Homo sapiens: one gene and its partners. The protein of the gene in region 6 purifies or fractionates together with the protein of the main gene of each other region. This does not show direct contact. Each region holds a gene or a part of one and is shown on either strand. Other genes may lie near its edges. The genes, in order: STX17, OCIAD1, USP8, CCKBR, VIPR1 and EPG5.

Evidence for each region.
Region 1: the proteins of EPG5 (region 6) and STX17 purify together in Homo sapiens (affinity purification with western blotting, with the first as the bait; one study listed by BioGRID). This does not show direct contact.
Region 2: the proteins of EPG5 (region 6) and OCIAD1 purify together in Homo sapiens (co-immunoprecipitation; one large-scale study listed by IntAct). This does not show direct contact.
Region 3: the proteins of EPG5 (region 6) and USP8 purify together in Homo sapiens (affinity purification with western blotting; one study listed by BioGRID). This does not show direct contact.
Region 4: the proteins of EPG5 (region 6) and CCKBR purify together in Homo sapiens (co-immunoprecipitation; one large-scale study listed by IntAct). This does not show direct contact.
Region 5: the proteins of EPG5 (region 6) and VIPR1 purify together in Homo sapiens (co-immunoprecipitation; one large-scale study listed by IntAct). This does not show direct contact.

The regions. Positions count from the first base shown.
Region 1 is NC_000009.12:99,962,154-99,965,653, forward strand, and holds part of STX17 (syntaxin-17), read left to right. Parts: intron 1-3,500. UniProt on the Homo sapiens protein: SNAREs, soluble N-ethylmaleimide-sensitive factor-attachment protein receptors, are essential proteins for fusion of cellular membranes.
Region 2 is NC_000004.12:48,834,088-48,837,587, forward strand, and holds part of OCIAD1 (OCIA domain-containing protein 1), read left to right. Parts: intron 1-3,500. UniProt on the Homo sapiens protein: Maintains stem cell potency. Increases STAT3 phosphorylation and controls ERK phosphorylation. May act as a scaffold, increasing STAT3 recruitment onto endosomes. Involved in integrin-mediated cancer cell adhesion and colony formation in ovarian cancer.
Region 3 is NC_000015.10:50,476,405-50,479,904, reverse strand, and holds part of USP8 (ubiquitin carboxyl-terminal hydrolase 8), read right to left. Parts: intron 3,057-3,500; coding exon 2,912-3,056; intron 2,630-2,911; coding exon 2,406-2,629; intron 1-2,405. UniProt on the Homo sapiens protein: Hydrolase that can remove conjugated ubiquitin from proteins and therefore plays an important regulatory role at the level of protein turnover by preventing degradation. Converts both 'Lys-48' an 'Lys-63'-linked ubiquitin chains.
Region 4 is NC_000011.10:6,269,838-6,272,627, reverse strand, and holds the end of CCKBR (gastrin/cholecystokinin type B receptor), read right to left. Parts: coding exon 2,708-2,790; intron 2,541-2,707; coding exon 2,291-2,540; intron 1,983-2,290; coding exon 1,825-1,982; coding exon of another isoform or gene 1,618-1,824; coding exon 1,085-1,617; 3' UTR 501-1,084; downstream 1-500. UniProt on the Homo sapiens protein: Receptor for gastrin and cholecystokinin. The CCK-B receptors occur throughout the central nervous system where they modulate anxiety, analgesia, arousal, and neuroleptic activity.
Region 5 is NC_000003.12:42,535,856-42,538,068, reverse strand, and holds the end of VIPR1 (vasoactive intestinal polypeptide receptor 1 isoform 1 precursor), read right to left. Parts: intron 1,980-2,213; coding exon 1,788-1,979; 3' UTR 501-1,787; downstream 1-500. UniProt on the Homo sapiens protein: G protein-coupled receptor activated by the neuropeptides vasoactive intestinal peptide (VIP) and pituitary adenylate cyclase-activating polypeptide (ADCYAP1/PACAP).
Region 6 is NC_000018.10:45,950,330-45,953,829, forward strand, and holds part of EPG5 (ectopic P granules protein 5 homolog), read right to left. Parts: exon of another isoform or gene 2,926-3,500; intron 2,315-2,925; coding exon 2,071-2,314; intron 910-2,070; coding exon 773-909; intron 1-772. UniProt on the Homo sapiens protein: Involved in autophagy. May play a role in a late step of autophagy, such as clearance of autophagosomal cargo.

The DNA of each region.
Region 1 (3,500 bases), on a different chromosome or scaffold from region 6:
TGCTTATGTTCCATATTCTGAATATTTTCTTGAAATGTGTTACCTAAAATTGAATGCAGTAAATTGTTTGAATTGCTTCTGGATGCCTCTAAGTTAGAAGAAGCAAAATATTTGAAGTTTCTGGATTAGGTATCTGTACAATATTAATATACTCGCAAACAGAAGGAAATAATAGAACAAGAATCCCAAAATATCTGTTGTTTCAGAATCAACATTTATTCAACTATTGTAAACTAATAATCTCTGAATCCAGTGCAGTTTGTAAAACCTATACATGTATGGTTACACAAATATATACACTTGCCAAAAGTCATTGGTCTGTACACATAAAATGTGTTTTAATATATGTAAATTATACCTCAATAAAGCTGATTTTAAAAAACAAACTACACATGTACAAAGTTCTTACTCAGTACAAACACATTTCTTTTCTACTGGGATAGGCACATAAAAGAAATATTAAAGGTCTGTGACCATAAGATAGTTACATGTTTGATTATATTATGTAAGCAGCTCATAACCTCTAATCTAAGGGAGATTTGTGTAGGAAAACTCTGGCTGTAGCCACAGCTCTATACAAATGTCCTGTTTGTAATAATCTGTTTAAGTACATGAGACAGAATGCTAATAAGCAAAAGCTCAAAGGAGAACCCCTGATTATTATTCCCAGGGTGACTAAGTTCTCATGACCACATGGCCAAGGATTCACAGAAGCTCTATTTAGGCACAGAATGACCTAGGAACATAACCAGAGTGACCACATCCTCTCATTATCATCACATGGACATGATAGTGTCTAGACAAATTAACCATGTATTTAAGGAACACTTTCTATCTGCGTAGCACTGTGCTAAGCTTAATGAGGAATAGAAAAAAGCATTTAAAAAACTTACAAGATAGTAATAGTGGTTGCACAATATTGTGAAGTTACTTATTGCCACTAAATTGTACACTTCAAAATGGTTAAAATGGTAAATTTATGTTATATTTATTTTACCACTATAAAAAGAACTTACAAAGCCATTGACAGATCAAGGTATAGTACAATAAATGTTAATAAATTAATATCTACTAGGTACCCTGCTCTATTTTTCTTCAGCCTTTGTTGTTCAAGTGCCCTCTTCTCTCCCTATAACTTTGTAACTAGCCCTATTTCTAGTCAAGGAGAATTTAAAGAACCCTGGGCCAGTAGTTCAGTAACAACTCACCCTTGCTGCTAGTCTGTTTTGACTTCTGCCTTTTGCCTTATTCCCTGTCGTTTTTGTAATCCAGTTTTACTCTGGAAACATAAAAACTGGTTGCAATGGATTAGATCAGATTCCTTCATTTATTACCTATGTGACCTTCAGGATGTTATTTGACAACAATGAGCTTTATAACACTGATGGGAGGACTAAATGAGGTAATGTGTATTATTAAGTACTTCCCATTCTGTTCCCTTCCACTGACCCCAACTGCATTCCCACTTTTGTCCTTCCTTTATTTTCATTCCTTGTTTGGCTCCTTGCAAAAATTCTACTTTTTCCACCACTATTATCCTTAGGCATTTTAGTACTGGAATTCCTTCAGTCCCTTTCCAACTGCTGAATCCTCTGTTAGCAACATCCTACTTATCTACTCTGCTTATTGCTTACTCGAAGCCAATATAATCACTTATTTTGCCTATATATCATAGTATTTATAAGTTTGTTTCTGGGCCTTTTTGTGTATATGATTGCATATGATTAAGGAGTATATAGAATATATCATAGGAGTTTAGAACCAGAATAGCTCAATGTGAACAGGATTGGTCAAGATCTAAGATTAGAACTTGGCCTTGAAGGCTGGCTGGAATTTAGAGAGGAATAAATGGACGTACCTGGAGTTTTGGTATTACCCTCTTAAATAAACTCGTAGCTTTCCAAGAACCTTAAACTTTACAACTACTATCAGAACTCTCTATGGAAGACCACTGTTAATGATATAAATGGATTTGGGGGTTAATTTTTGAATGTATTATTATTGCTTGACATAGAGGATGCTAGGCCTACAAGTGTCCCCAACAGGCATTCAAGAACAAAACAGTTCATTGGTTTTGAATTTATATTCCCAAATTGCATTCTGCTTGACAAGTATAATAAATCACAGTTTATACAGAAACTTAGGTACTCCTATAGCTGTTCGTCAAGATTTGTTATGTTCAGGCCAATAGGGGGACTTAATTCAATGTTCTTTAAAATGAAATCCGTAGACATATTCTTAGAGTCATTTGAGAATTTTCTTTTTCTGTAAAAGGAGGTCAGTATATTACTCTAGCTTGAGAAACACTGCAGTGTAATGAGCTAAACACTTAAATATGGTTTAGCTCATTGTTAAAGGAATGCTGAGAACATATATGGGGTGCCAAACTATAAAATGGCAGGTATGGAATTTGAAGATTGTCAAATGTGGGAGGCCTAAGCAGATGAAAATAAACATGAGCAAATCAGAAGCAAAACCTCAGGGGAGATTGATAGATAGAGGTTAGGAGGCTCCTGCACCACCATTAATGTTTAGAGCTTGATTTCACAGGCTGGGGCAGGGTTGTATATGTATCTTTTGGTCCCACAAAAAGAGCCAAGGACATAGTGGACAGGTAGTGACCCAATTCAGCTCTGTATGGAGTCTGGTTTGGCATTCTGCTGATGGTAATTGACAACTCTGTGACAATAGTTTGCTGCCTAACTGTAACCTTTGTGGGGGTCAGTGAGTCCTCCTTACTCAAGAAGCAGAATTTGAAGATATGGGCAAAGTTTGAAGTTGCAAACCAAGCAAAATACGGACAAGAGAAAGGCAGACGTGCACAATCGAGGGGTGATTATTGATCCCAGGATAGGGGCTGTCTGCCCTCTGCCTTATTCCCACACCCCAGCCCCATATCTTAGCATGCTTTCTGATGGCATGAATAAATACTTATAGATGTGGGCTACTCCCCAGGGTGGGATGGGCCTCATCAAATGCTGGTGATTGCAATGATGGGGAACTTTGTAGTTCAAATAATTAGTGATCTCAGGATTGGTTTTTTGCCTGTGGTTGCTTCTTCAGTTATTCCAAATGATTTTTATGAAAAAATATTTAAATTATTTTAAAATTTTGCTTTAATTTTTAAAAAGTCATAGAAGTACAATATCCAACCCTTTTTAAAGGAAGGAACATTAGAAAGTATTTCCCTGAGGCTTTACGATTACACTTGGGGTATAGAAATGGCAATAATCCTGGCAGGCTCCTCCCTCTTGCTGGAATTATTTTGGGGCTGAAGGAAGGGAGACACTGACTATTTTTCCTCTACCTTTCAACTCATCAACATATGACGGCTGATGGTAGAGTTTTAAGCCTGTGATTTATCTGCTAGCATAGACTGTTTCAGGCAAGAGTGGAAAGTGTTGGGGGTGTCCTAAATAGAAACAATGATAGGGTGTCAGAAATCTAGACAAGTTGTATATTATTAGTGCTGGAACTTTTTCTTCTATGGGTCAGAAAAA
Region 2 (3,500 bases), on a different chromosome or scaffold from region 6:
TCACTATTTAACAAAGAATTGGTATTGCTTTACTTGGAAACTGTAGTCCTTTCAGGTAAAAAGGAGGATGAATTTTTTTTTGTTTTTGTTTTTGTTTTTTTGAGATGGAGCTTCGCTCTTGTTGCCCAGGCTGGAGTACAATGGTGTGATCTCAGCTCACTGCAACTTCTGCCTCCTGGGTTCAAGCGATTCTCCTGCCTCAGCCTCCTGAGTAGCTGGGATTACAGGCATGTGCAACCATGCCCAGCAAATTTTTCTATTTCTAGTAGAAGCGGGATTTCACCATGTTGGCCAGGCTGGTCTTGAACTCCTGACCTTAGGTGATCTGCCTTGGCCTCCCAAAGTGCTGGGATTATAGGCGTGAGCCACCATGCCTGGCAAATTTTTTTTTAAAAAAGGCAACTTGGCACGGTGCCTCATGGCTATAATTGCAGCACTTTGGGAGGCTGAGGCAGGAGGATTGCTTGAGCCCAGAAGTTCAAGACCAGCGTGGGCAACATAGAGGGGCCTTGTCTCTACCAAAAATGAAAGAAATTAGCTGGGTGTGGTGATACGTAGCTGTAATCGCAACCATTTGGGAGGCTGAGGCTGAGGTAGGAGGATCCCTTGAGCTGGGTACATAGAGGCTGCTGCAGTGAGCTATGATCACATCACTGCATTCCAGCCTGGGTGACAGAGCCAGACCCTGTCTCAAAGAAAAGAAAAAAAGGGCAACTTAAGCCATTAAGGAGGATGTATGTTTTCATCAGTCAGCCTGATATGTATGCTTAAAATGTGCAAGGTACCTGTTGGGAAGATAAGTTTTATGAAAGACAGACTTTGTCCTGAATTAATTTTCTTTTTTGTTTGTTTGTTTTTGTTTTTGAGACGGAGTCTCACTCTCTTCCCCAGGCTGGAGTGCAGTGGTGTGATCTCTGCTCACGTCAACATCCTTCTCCTGGGTTCAAGTGATTCTCCTGCCACAGTGTCCTGAGTATCTGGGACTACAGGCGTGCGCCACCATGCCCGGCTAATTTTTGTATTTTCAGTAGAGACTGGGTTTCACTATGTTGGCCAGGCTGATCTCGAACTCCTGACCTCAGTTGATTCACCTGCCTTGGCCTCCGAAAGTGCTGGGATTACAGGTGTGAGCCACTGCGCCTGGCCCTGAAGTAGTTTTATATGTGGTGAGACAAAGCTAATACATGAAACACTTAGAGATTAAGTGTGTAACTGCAGAAGACTTTTTAAAGAGATAAATTAATTAGAATTGACTTACTGAAATTGAAAAATTTGAATAACTTTTGAGATTTTAAAACTCAAAATTTTCTCAAAATTTTACCAAATTTCAATTTGGTAAAAACTGAAGCCTCTTACAATTTTACAGTTGTGTTTTTCTGTAACATAAGGTGGAATACCTGAGTTGGAAAAAGACCTTTATTTGTTAAGCAAACAATACTTTAACAACTTTATAATAGTACTGTAGGCCAGGTATGGTGGCTCACACCTGTAATCCCAGCACCTTGGTTTTGTTTTGTTTTTTATTTTTGTAGATACTAGGTTTTGCCATGTTGCCCAGGCTAATCTTGAACCCCTGAGTTCAAGCGATCTGCCTGCCTTGGCCTCCCCAAATGGTGGAATTTCAAGCATGAGCCACTGAACCTGGCCCCAGCACATTGGGTGGTTGAGGCAGGAGGATCGCCTGAGACCAGGAGTTTGAGACCAGCCTTGGCAACATAGTGAGACCCTGTCCCTAATCCCCCAACAACAACAACAAAAGAATTAATAGTTAATAAGTAGATAAGTGAAGAGGAAAGGTGGAGTAGCATTTGGAAGAAAGGAGTAGTGAACAAAGGCAGAGTTTGCAATAACTTCATCTCTGCTGGAGCGGTGAGCCTGAATTGATTGGAACAGAGGTCTTTCATTGAGGATAGAACGTAAAACATAGTAATGAGTTAAAGGTTTGATCCATTATATCGTTTAGGTTCTTGAGCAGAGGGGGGTGATATGTAAGGTTTTTTTTAAGGAAGGTTAGTTAACAGTGTGCAAGATGGGTAGAAGGGTGAGAAGTTGTACTTGGTAAAATCTGTTTTGAGCTTTTGGCAGTAACTTAGGCATATATATGTAGTCAACGATGAGATATAGTTGATTAGTGTGTCATTTGGACTGGAAAAGATGAGCTGGCAACGAAAGACTTTTTAAAGGACAAATAAAAGGATTTTTTAAAAAGTTCGACTAAGGGGGAATGAAGGAATGGTAAGAGGGAGGTAATAGCTTTAAGATAACCAGCTTAGGAGACTCAATGATACCTCTGAATAAAAGGTTCATTTAGAAGGAGTTCTTGTTTGAAGATGAGTTTAGTTCAGACGTTTTGAGTTCATGGTGCAACATTCGATTGTCGAAGATTTCTAAGCAACTACAGATAGAAACAAAAGCATACATGAAAAATTAGTTTATTGTGGAGTTGTGTTGGTGAATTCGCCAATAAATTAAGTGTAGAGATAAAAGCATAAAACTGATAATAGTTTCTGCCCTGTGATTAATACTTAGGATTGATAGAATAAAGGATAAAGTTTGGATAGTACCCATGGATAAGGGAACAAGTGATAGTGAAAGAATCAACAAAGACCAAGAGCAGTTAGGAAGATAGAGGAGCTCTGATAGAATCTTTGTCATTTTATCCACCAATATTCAGAGACTTGCAGGTATTTCAAGCTAGAAAGAACCTGAATAAGAATTAGGTGATGATGTCCATTTTAAATTTATGATGACTATGCATCTAAAACAGTTATTCTCAACTGGGAGCAGAATAACTGGAACGAGTTGAGAATAATTGTTATAGATGCATAGTCATCATAAAGTAAGGGCTTCTATAAAATTTTCATGGCTCATTAGAATGGGAATAATTTCTTTCTTTTTTTTTGAGACGGAGTCTCGCTCTATCCCCCAGGCTGGAGTACGGTGGTGCAATCTTGGCTCACTGCAAGCTCCGCCTCCTGGGTTCATACCATTCTCCTGCCTCAGCCTCCCGAGTAGCTGGGATTACAGGCGCCTGCCACCATACCTGGCTATTTTTTTTTGTATTTTTACTAGAGATGGGGTTTCACCGTGTTAACCAGGATGGTCTCCATCTCCTGACCTTGTGATCCACCTGCCTCGGCCTCCCAAAGTGCTGGGATTACAGACGTAAGCCATCGTTTTTTTTTTTTTGTTTTTTTTTCTTTTTTCGGTGTTCTTTTTTTTGTGACTGGGTTTCACTCTTGTTGCCCAGGCTGGAATGCAATGGCACAGTCTTGGCTCACTGCAACCCCTGCCTCCTGGGTTCAAGCAATTCTCCTGCCTCAGCTTCCCAAGTAGCTGGGCTTATAGGCGCCTGCCACCATGCTCAGCTAATTTTTGTATTTTTGGTAGAGAAGGAGTTTCACCATGTTGGCCAGGCTGGTCTCGAGCTCCTGACCTTGTGATCTGCCCACCTCGGCCTCACAAAGTTCTGGGATTACAAGCATGAGCCACTGTGCCTG
Region 3 (3,500 bases), on a different chromosome or scaffold from region 6:
TGCCTATAATCCCAGCTACTCAGGAGGCTGAGGTGGGAGGATTGCTTGAACCCAGGAAGTCGAGGCTGCAGTGAGCTGTGATCACGCCACTGCACTCCAGCCTGGGTGAGAGAGTGAGACCGTTTTCAAAAAAAAAAGAAAAGAAAAAGAAAACGAGGTTAGTGTAGAAAAAATAATTTTTTTCCTGTTCACTTCTCTTTCTGCCTCTTAAAAAAAATCCTTTGTCTTTTTTTTTGCATGTATTTGAGAATAAAGTAGGAAGAACCACTATGGGGATGAGGTTAACAATAAGAGGTGGAACAGAAACAAAAATAAATGTTGTTTCCATTTACATTTTGGTGGCTTGATCTATTTTTCCCTAATTTTAAAAGTATAGTTATGATCATGTTACTCTCAAGTTTAAAATTCTTTAATGGTTCCTTGTGCCTACAGGACAAAATTCAAATTTGATCCAAGTCTCTCTTGATGACTCTTGTCCATCCTTCTAATCTTATCTACTATCATAACTTCCTCTCTCCAACAGAGACTAGCGCCCACATATGCCAAAACTGTTCACTGGCCCCAGAGCATGCCCTATGCCTTTGGTCATAGAATTTTCTACTTGTTTCTTCTATCCTCCAATCCTACTCTTAAAGCCCAGATAAAATACTGTCTCCTCCATGAAGACGTCCTTGATCTTCTCAGCTAGAATATTCTCCTTGCTCTGTGCTCCAGTGCCTTGTAGAGCAATTATGATATTCTGCCTTATGCTGTGGCTGATTTTATACAGATCTCTCCTTCCAAACATCAGAAGAACCCATCTCTTGTATATACAAACTTTCATGCTGTCTTATTTTTATTTTTATTTTTTTTTGAGACAGAGTCTCACTCTCACCCAGGCTGGAGTGCAGTGGCCTGATCTCGGCTCACTACAACTCTGCTTCCTGGGTTCATGTGATTCTCCTGCCTCAGCCTCCTGAGTAGCTGGGACTGCAGGCACGCACCACCACGCCTGGCTAATTTTGGTATTTTCAGTAGAGATGGGGTTTCACCATGTTGACCAGGCTGGTCTGGAACTCCTGACCTCAGGTGACCCACCTGCCTCCGCCTCCTAAAGTGTTGGGATTACAGGCACGAGCCATGGCACCCAGCCCTCATGCTGTTTTTTATATAGAAGATCTTCAAAATATGTCTGAAAATTGTACGTATCTCATAAAGTTATGTTGGGACACAAAAGGATTAGCGTTTAAATAGATTAAGTTGAAAGGAAATGCAATAACATAGAGAAGCTCTTTTTAGACTTTCCTAAATTCACCCTTTAAGAAAAGTTGTTTAATCACATCTATTTAGTCTGCAATTTATTCTGCAATACTAAAAGACCTTAAAAAAATGAAGAAATGAACCACTTCAGTTTATAACAAAAAATTACCAGATTTTCTATTCAATACCTGCTCCACAAATCAAACGTCATCCACTTTAAATGTGAAATACTGTTTTAAATATATCTGGGGAAAAAATTAAAAATGAATGCTAAAAAATGTTATTGGGAAATGCATGGAGGGGGAACATTAGTTAACCTTTCTTTAAATAAAGCCAAATGAAGGATATAAAAACTAAAATTTTTTTATTTGTAATGTCTTGGTTATTTAAAAACTTTTACATGATTATTGTTAAACATGCCTGTTATTTGCGTGTCAAATTCTAAGGAAATGAAACTAAAGCACTGTTTTAAAACCAAAATACTGACATCACATACCTATCATATGTAAGCCAAGCTATTTATGAAAATAATATGGGTCAAATTATAATACAAAAAATCCCAAAAGGGCTATTCTAATTCACTGTGATAATGCAATCTTTCATTGGCATTGTTTGTAGCAAATGGATCGCCAACTGGCTTGGAAACCCCTTAATTATCTACTCTAATATAGGCGTGGCGGTAATGCTGAATTATGATGAAAAATTTTTAAACAAAAAATTTATCAAAACATACAGACTGTTCTCATCGATACTTTTTTCTAAGATGTTAAAGGTTATATATTAAACTTCGTTTCTATACTATGTATTTAATTCTTTTTTTTTTTTTTGAGACAGAGTCTTGCTGTCACCCAGGCTGGGGTGCAGTGGTGCAATCTCGACTCACTGCAACCTCCGCTTCCTGGGTTCAGACAATTCTCATGCCTCAGCCTCCCAAACAGCTGGATTTATAGGCACCCACCACCATGCCCAGCTAATTTTTGTATTATTAGTAGAGAGGGGGGTTTCACCATGTTGGCCAGGTTGGTCTCAAACTCCTGACCTCAGGTGATCTGCCCCTCTCAGCCTCCCAAAGTGCTGGGATTACAGGCGTGAGGCACTGTGCCCAGCTATACTATATATTTAATATTAAAACAAAAGCGAGAATAATGTTAAAATCAAGAACATACCTGTGGAACATTCTTTATACTAGGCACTGGCTGAATTATGGGTGAAACATCAGATTTAGAAGCAGCAACTGGTTCAACTGGAGTTGATATATTCAGTGGTCCCATTCTCTCATTTTGACCACTTATCAATTCTATATTTTCATCTACTTCTATAGATGCAGGTGGCGTCTGGGCAGCAGGTTTAGAAGGAATTGATTCTTCCAATGAGGGATAAGTAAAATCCACTAAAATTCCAAAAATAAAAATGTTTTTTAGAATAGCAAACCCCATACACAGTACTTACATTTCTCATGCGTGTTAATGCAGTAATTAAATGTAAACTAAGTGAAAAAACAATTACAACAGTCTTAAAGAAAATGTGAACTTCCAGGCTTATATTTTTATGCCTGAAAACAAACTGCTCTCTAATAGGACAAATACACACACAACCAAGAATGTTACCGGGAAAACAATTTTAAACCATATTTTACCAAAGCAATTTTAAACAAAAATTTTCACATACATACATGAGATAGACACCTCTTCATTCTGGCGTCGTGGGGGTGGAGTGACCTTAGCATTTGTTGTATACTGGGGATAACAAAGGAGCCAGTTTTCATAGCCTCCCTCTAAAACCAAAGGCTCATTGCGCAGGACAGTTTTACTTTCCCACTATAAATAAGGAAATCATATTTTAAATAGGGCAGCAATCTTTCAACAGCTAAAAACACAACAAATCTAAATTTTAAAGTTGTTCCCTTAAGGACAAAATTTATCTTCTAAATAATGACAAAATGAGAACTGAATTCAAAATTCAACATTAAATGAAATGGTTATATAGGTGAGGTTTTAAAAACCATACAAATAATCAATGATCTTAGAAGAAAAATTAGAAAATAAATTACTAAATATAAAACAAAAATGACCCATAACCTCACCACCCCAATACCACTTTACATTCTGGAGTTTACTCTTATAGAGAGTTTTCAATAAAACCTTTATGATGTTGCTTTTCTATGAACATCTTTCATCACTATAGAGCTATATCATCATTTGCAATGCTAGGTAATATTCGACTACTGGTTGACTGATTGACAAGGTCTCACTCTATCACCC
Region 4 (2,790 bases), on a different chromosome or scaffold from region 6:
CTAAAAGTGCTTCCATTTGGCAGAATCTTGGCCAGGTTTTGACACTGGGGAAGAGAGTACAGCAAAAAATCCCTACTCTTTAATTAACTGTATTCATTCTGTATACCTGTCATGGTCTGATCTCTGGTGTTTCAAACACACATTGAATAAACTTAGTCTTATTATACAGTGCTTCCTCTTTTATCTTTTCATCAAAATTTAATAAGCATCCATTAATATAGTACCTTAACAGTGGCACCACTTTGGGATAATGTGATCAGGAATCATGATATGTCATGGATATGCCATTTTCCATCCCCATTCACAGTTATTGCAACATTGGAATGTAGGTAGAGGATGAAAACTCAGAAAGAATATGCACAGCCACGCTGAACCTCAGAGGCTGGGCTTTCTGGCAAGGGGTTGTGCACAGCAGTGTGCAACAGTGGGAGAGACCCGACAGAAGGATACTGCAAAATCCTATGCCTCCTCACCTGCCCCAGAAGAATCCAGAAAGGAAGTTCAGGAGGAAGCCAAACAATTTATTATTTCTTGAACAGTTTGGGTAAGGAAGGAGAGGGCAGGGCCACGGTCCTTAACTGGAAAGGGATGAAGAACCTTTTCAGTGCAGAACAGCCTGTTGGTCAGAGGTATGAGATTAGGCCTGATGGTATTTTCAGTGCTGATTGGGAAGGGTCACTGTGAGGTCAAACTAGGAGCATCCCAGAATCAGTCCTGTGCCAGGCTCCATAGTCTCTAAAACAATCAGTGCCATTAATCTATGTGTGTGAGAGGCAGGTCAGCCCTTGTCAGAGTTCCCACTGTGTAGAAATAGTTCACTGCTAGGGACGCTGTGTCTCTCCAAGGTCAGTGTCATGTTTCTATGGGCCAGGCTCAGTCCCATATCAGAGGCATGCCTCCTTTCCCATGTACTGCTCCATTCTTATTCCTCTTGTGTCAGGTAAGCTACCTTTTCCTGTGCGTTGGGGTTAGTCCATGCTTTGGGTGTTGGTTTCCTGTGTCAGTTGTGGTTTGTGTTTCGTATGTCTGGAAGGGTCAGTGCATGTCATTTGCCCTGCCTCAACCCCCACGGCCCCTCTACTCCTCAGCCAGGGCCCAGTGTGCTGATGGTGGTGTAGCTAAGCCTGGACAGCGAAGCAATGGAGGGAGTGGGAGGGTCCTCATCGGGAAGAGCCCTGGGGCGAGCTCGTGGAGGCCGGGGGCAGCAGCGAGCGCAAGTTTCCAGGCAGGCCTGGCGAAAGCGACGGTGCATGAAGCAGTAGACCAGGGGGTTGACACAGGCCGAGGCGTAGCTCAGCAAGTGAATGAAGGAGATAGGAGCACCCGAGAGTGCTCGGTGTGCACCCGGGCCATCAAAGGCGCGCCACGTGTTGGCACTATAAACTGGCAACCAACACAGAAAAAAAAGCACAACGATCACCAGCAACATTCGCACCACGCGCTTCTTAGCCAGCAGCTTGGCCTGGGTGGGCCGGGAGCCGGATCCCGGCCCAGGAGCCGTCAGCGCCGTCAGCTCCAGGGCAGGCCGGGAACGTGGAAGTTGCACGTAGCAGCCATCGCTGTCTTCGCCAACCGCGCCAGTCTCAGGCCGGCAACGCCCGTTCTGGTGAACAGCCCCTGAGCACAAAGGGTGGGCGGTCAGAGAAAAAGGCGAGTCCCCCCAGTCTCCAGCCCAGTCCCCACCTGACCTCCGCTCCCAGCTCAACTCCATTTCCAGCTTCCTTCTCACCCTCACCTTCATTTCAGTCCCACCCACTCCAGCAGGCCCCGTCGCCCTCCAAAGCTCCGCCTCGCCCAGATTTTGCTCACGTGGTCCAGCCCCACCTGGCAGCCCGCCTTGGTTTCGGACCCTGCTTTGGCTGTCGCTGTCACTGTCGCCGTCAAAGCGAAGCCCTAAGTAGAGCTCGCGAGAGATAAGCCCGTAGGCCACGGCCATAACCACACCCGGGATGAAGAACAAGAGCAGAAGCAGCAGTACGGACCTGAAGGCAACACAGACAGATCACTCGGGTTTCTGTCCAGCTGTAATCACAGATGGAGAAAAAGCCAAGGACTAGTGTTTCTAGGGCTGTGGCCAGGTACCTGAAGTAGGAGTAGGATTTGGGGGTGCCGCTGGGAAGGGAGAGAGAACTGGGGAGGGGCCCCAAACTGGAACTCCAGGGTGGTGGATGCAGAATAGGAGTTGGCGTGGTAATTCTCCGGGAAGCTGGAGGAAGATTCTGGGCAATGGTCGTAAGCATCTAATAGGGGTGAGAAAGGAATTCCTAGGATAGTTTATGGGCAAGCTCACCAGGTCTGGCGGACCCGCGCACTGGGCCAGCGATGCACGCACTGCAGCACACGAGGCCCCACTGGTTGCACGACAGTGTACACGGGGTAGGGCACCATGAGTAGTCCGGACAGCAGCCACGTGGCTACAATCACGCGAGCCGCGTGGGAGCGCGTCTGCCACACTCGTGCCTGCAGTGGTCGGCAGATGGCGCTGTACCGCTCCAGTGCGATGGCCACGAGGCTTAGCGTGGACACACTCACAGACACCCCTAAACAAGGGAAGAGAAAGGAAGGAGTCACCTAGGAAACTTGCACTACACAAGCATCAGTGGGACTTCCTCACACCCCTCCCTGCCAACCGGGGAAGACCCCTACATCCACAAGAGCTTTAGGCGGGGAGAGTGGCAAGTGGGGGTGGGGTGGTTGTCTCACCCACCCATGAGGTAGGAAACCGCCTTGCAGATGACGGTGCCAAAGATGAATGTGCCCATGAGATTGGGCAGGAGGGTGAAGGGCATG
Region 5 (2,213 bases), on a different chromosome or scaffold from region 6:
ATTGTCTCTGCTCACTCAACTTGTGTTGGTGACATTTGTTTTGTCCACTACCTACCTCCTCTTAGCTGAGCCCTGGGTAATTGCAACATGGTCATCCTAGACCCTTGTTTGCAGCAATGTCTGCGGCCTGTGAAACACTCACACTCAACCATTTCTGGGACCCTGGGCAGCTCTGCCAGCTGTTTTGTATTGATCTGAGATTAGAATGGTCTTTTCTTGGCTGGATTTAAGGAGTGGGGGGACACAATGGGGACCTGGTCTTCATCACACTCAGAGGAGAGAGGATACCACTCAAAAAGATGGGAGCTGAAGGCCCTCAGAACTGTGAATGCCTCATATGAAAATATGGATTTCTGTCAAAAGCCAAAAGAGTTGAGGCATCTGGTTTCAGTAATGTATTAGATCACCCATCCTTTGGGTGGAGGAAGATGGCTCCAAGTTGGAAGCTGGTCCCATTTTAGGCCATATGAGAATATCAACCACCAGGGGAACCAAGCCAATCCAAGCCAACATTTATTGTTGCACAAGCCTGTTGCAGTCCTGAGGGGATCTTCTGGCAGAGGTGTGGGTAGGAAGCTGAGTGGCCACTGGGGTGAAGGGCAGACAGAGGAGGCTGTGACCAGCAGGCTCCTATCCAGATGATACATGAGATGGAGGCCTCCTCAGCCACACTCCAGGGAGGGTGGGGTGGCAAGGGGGATTCAGGGATAATGGCATTAATAATACAAGTGGTAAACAAATAACCAAGAGGATCTGGCTGGTTACGATACACAAAAGTTAGCAGTAAGAGTCCGTGCTTTCACATTCCTATCAGACAGATCTGAGTTCAAATCCTGTATGTGTAGCAGGGTGAGGTATCTGCTTTCTGTCAGAGCCCATGGGTGCACATCTCTGAGCCTAGTTACAACAGTTGGCACATAGGTGGGTGGACAAGGAGGGCAGCTCTTGATTCCTGTTGCTTCCACAGCACAGAGAGATAAGTATGGCTGGTGTGACAGATCCCACTTGACAGATGAAGCCACTGAGACTTGGAGAGCAGGTAGGCTTAGTCCGAGACCTAGCATTCGCTGGTGGCTGCCTTCTCATTTCCCAGAGGCTTCAGAGTCCCTCAGTCCTTGGGTTGCACCGTCCTCCCACCAGACTGACCCAGGGGCCAGTCCACTTCGGTGGGGAACCACTAAGATAGGTGTGCTCTCCAAACAAAAACTCCAGAATAACCCACTTTAAAAAGCTGATAACTAAGCGTAAAGAGAGAATAGGGTAGTGAGCTGCATCTTCAGTCAAATGCCTGAGTGGTAATGCTTAACCCAAAGGAACTTGACAGCAATGGTGAAATTTCAGGCACTACCGTGGTGTTGGTGCTGGTGACCTTCCCGGGCAGAACCTTTCTGCCCTCAGGTCACACCAGTGTTGTTTGAGGATCCACCGGTTGCTTTCCTCCAATTGGGCAGAAGAGCCAGCAGGGGGCAGAGTCAGGATGAAAGTATGTAGACTTTTTGCCCTTGATTGGCGTAGGGGGCCTTTGGAGGAGGAGTCTAATGACTGAGTTCCACCTGCAATCCTCCAGGAGAGGAGCTCCCATCTCTCTCACTTGCTAGAAACGCTCCAGGCAGGCTCTAGGGCTGCGTTCTCTAGGAGTGTCCGGACCAGAGACCAGGGGGCCGGGGGCAGCCTCCGAGCCCAGGGCCGGGGCTGGCCGCGCCCGGGCAGGCCTCTGTCCCCGGCGTCTGCCGGGGTGAGTGGGAAGGGGCGGGAGGGGCCGCCTTGGGCCCCTGGGATCCTGGTGGTCAGACCAGGGAGACTTCGGCTTGGAAGCTGGAGGAGCGGCGGGCACCTGGGCTGACGCGGGTCAGCATGGAAACCTGCGTGCTGCACGTGGCGCCGTTGCTGCCTCCCGACGGGTGCCGGTATTTGGGGTTCCAGCCCAGGACGCCCTGCAGGTGCCAGCGCCGCCACTTCCGCCTCAGCTCCGCCTGCACCTAGGAGAGGGGAAGGTGGTCAGGCCCACTGCTGTGGAGCCTCTTCCACTGCTGATTGGGCTGCCCTGGACTTAGGGTTCTGAACTAGCCAGTCTTATTCTCTTTAGGAAATCAAAATGGAGGGACCCCTATGCTGCCTCGGGCGGTGCAAACTTGGGACTGGGTTGAGGCCAGGTTCAGAAGGAGGCCTTGGAATGGCAGGAGGTAAGAGGCAGAGAGGATCCTAGAATACAG
Region 6 (3,500 bases):
CTCCATTGTGGGAGAGACCCAGTGGGAGGTAACTGAATCATGGGGGCCGGTCTTTCCCATGCTATTCTCATGATAGTGAATAAGTCTCACGAGATCTGATGGGTTTATCAGGGGTTTCTGCTCTTGCTTCTTCCTCATTCTCTCTTGCCACCACCATGTACGAAGTGCCTTTTGCCCTCCACCATGATTCTGAGACCTCCTCAGCCATATGGAACTGTAAGTCAAACTAAACCTCCTTTTCTTCCCAGTCTCAGGTATGTCTTTATCAGCAGCATGAAAAAGGACTAATACATTTGGGGCTGAAACATAAGTCTGAACACAATATTCATTTGTAATTCTGTACCTGAGACAAAGTTTCTATTAAGTACTTAGGTGTGGAATTTTCCACTTGTGGCATCGTATCAGCACTCAAAAAGTTTGGAATTTTGGATCATTTCAGATTTCTGAATTAGGAATCCTCAACCTGTACCTATATTCTGAATATACATCTAGTCTTCAATTTCGCATACTTCCTGCATTTCCATTTCTTTCAAAGCTGAAGTCCAGAGTTCATTTAGCATAATCTTTACTAGAGAGAAACATACTTTGTGCTCAATAATGCACTAGATAAATAACTTACTACCATGTATCATGATCAAAGAAAAGTCATTAATAAACTCATCAAATAAATTAGCTGAAAAAGTTGAAGACCAAATGTAATGATATAACAGATAATTCCTAAATTATGAAAGAAATAAAACAAAGACTACTGTGTCTATCTCTGTCCCCTTACCAATTTCTGCAGCCAGAGAAGAATATCATCATGAAACTGAGTATCTTCATTAACTCTCCTGGTGAACATGAATAAGACACTAATGCATTCCTTTAGTTGACACAGATCAGAGGGAATGCTTTCTGTCTGCTTAGACGCTGTAAATGAAAGATATTAAATGAGTCTCTCATAAATGGTGTTTTTGGGGGAATTTTTAGTGTCTTCACTTAAACCAATAACAACAAAAACCTTTAAAATATTTAGTGCAGATAAAAGGAGAAAAGTTACATCAAAATACTTAAATTTTTATAAACAGACAAGTCAAAAATGTGTTTAACTTTGAAGTATTTCAAAATAATGGAAAAATCAACCTCATCATAATTTTTTTTTTTTTTTTGACACAGCCTCCACTCTGTCACCCAGGCTGGAATGCAGTGGCGCAATCTTGACTCACTGCAACCTCCGCTTCCTGCGTTCATGCCATTCTCCTGCCTCAGCCTCTTGAGTAGCTGGGATTACTGGTGCCTGCCACTACACCCAGCTAGTTTTTGTATTTTTAGTAGAGAAGGAGTTTCACCATATTGGCCAGGCTGATCTTGAACTCCTGACCTCAAGTGATCCACCCACCTCAGCTTCCCAAATTGCTGGGATTACAGGTGTGAGCCACCACACCCGGCCATAATCCACTATTTTTTATTTGAAAATCAGTACATCTCTGACCTACCCCCAGTTAATTGATTAGTTAAGAAAATGGGGGAGGGGGAATTTTACTTTAAAGTACCCTAATACATCCCCCAGAAATAAAAATTGCATAATTCAACAAGCATACTTAATATTCATGTCATAAAGACTAATTTCTTAAAATCCAAAATAAGATGAAAAATTCAGAACATTATTAATCCTCTGTTGGAAAATTAAACAAAACAGCCCTACAAACAAAGCAGCCCAAACAAACCACAAGAGATAAAGGGTGAAGAAGTATTCCGATGATTACTTTTATAATCAAAAACTATATTTGGACTCAACTTGGTAACAAGCACATTAACTAGGACAGCAAAGGACATTAATGATAGATAGTGAGCTTTTTGGCATCCTAGAGAAGCAGAGAAAGACAGCCACGGAGAAAGGAGACCTGGCAATGCTCCCAAGAAATGTCATTAAGGCAGATCTCAATCCTACAGTGGGGGAGGCCTGGTAAAACTGCAAGCACAAATGGTACCTTGTAAGACCAATTACTATACAGTCAATTCAACCAGGCTATACCCCTCAATTTTTTTTTACTTCAAAACACAAGAAAGAGAGCTTCATTACTTACATACCTCGGCCTTGCTGGTGAATTGCTGAAGATCTCAGAACAGCTGAACTACTGAGCAATGCATAGATGTAAGACTCCACTTGCAATCTTGAGAGCACAGAAGTATAAGAATGAAGGGCCAGGGTCTGGTGGAGGTGCTCAGATTTGGCATCGAATAGCTTCTTTAGCTCCACCAGTGCATTTTCATTCATTTCTACTCTTTGGTAGCGATGATAGCTGAAAACTTTCACTTGATCTGCACAGATACCCTACCAGAGGACAAAAAGGTACAATATGAAACCAGTTACTCTTTCCATTTGAAGTAAGCAGGCAGCAAGTATAAGGTACACAGGCTTCAGTACCATCTTCAAAGAGCTTATAATCATGGTGAGGAGACATATTACTGTGTAGAGAACATTACCAGCAAATATATGATCAGGTGCAAAGGAACAGAAGGCCAATCACAAATACATCGCAAATTCAGAGAAGGGAAGAGTAACTCTAGTAGTCAGCAGTGGGCCAGGCGCGGTGGCTGATGCTTGTAATCCCACCACTTTGGGAGGCCGAGGCAGGTGGATCACGAAGTCAGGAGTTTGAGACCAGCCTGGCCAACACAGTGAAATGCTGTCTCTAACTAAAAATATAAAAATTAGCTGGGCATGGTGGTGGGCGCCTATAATCCCAGCTACTCGGGAGGCTGAAGCAGGAGAATTGCCTGAACCCGGGAGGTAGAGGTTGCAGTGGGCCAAGATTACGCCACTGCACTCCAGCCTGGGCGACAGAGCTAGACTCCATCTAAAAAAAAAGTAGTAGTCAGCAGTGAAAGCTGCAAGAAAATAATAGAACTTGTCCCTAAGACTTTCATGATTGATGATCTTACCTTCTATTTTATGAATATGAAGCCAATGTGATATCTCCAAAACTTCAAGGTATCTCAAAACATCTCTGGATCTACCCTCATCATTCTTCATAGTTCTACTCAAGAGAATACACACTCCACCAGCTGTGTTCTTGATTCTATCCTCTCTTCTTCAATACAGTATTTCCAAATATTTCCCTCCTTACTATGTACAGAGATATACAGGTCTGCCAATGAATGAGGATTAGGGATAGGGGAATGACATGTTTCTCCCCAATATCCCCTCCAGCTTCCCTTCACTGCCAAACTTGTCAAGAGTAACCTCTTCTTCCTTGCCATCTCTCCTAAGCCACTATGAAATGGCTTATGATCACTTTGGCCTCCATAGGGTTGCATCTAATGGTCTTCTCCATCCCCTCTCAAACTTGAGAGGACGTCTCCCCCTTCCTTTGGGGGCTCTGTGTTACACATCAGGGACTCTCCATTGCTTATAGTTAAGAAGGTGAGTTTCACTCTCATTTTGTCCACTGGCATCATCCTGGAGCTAGGAATCAGTTACTACCTTCAGATTCCTCATCCCCACTCAATGGGGAAGA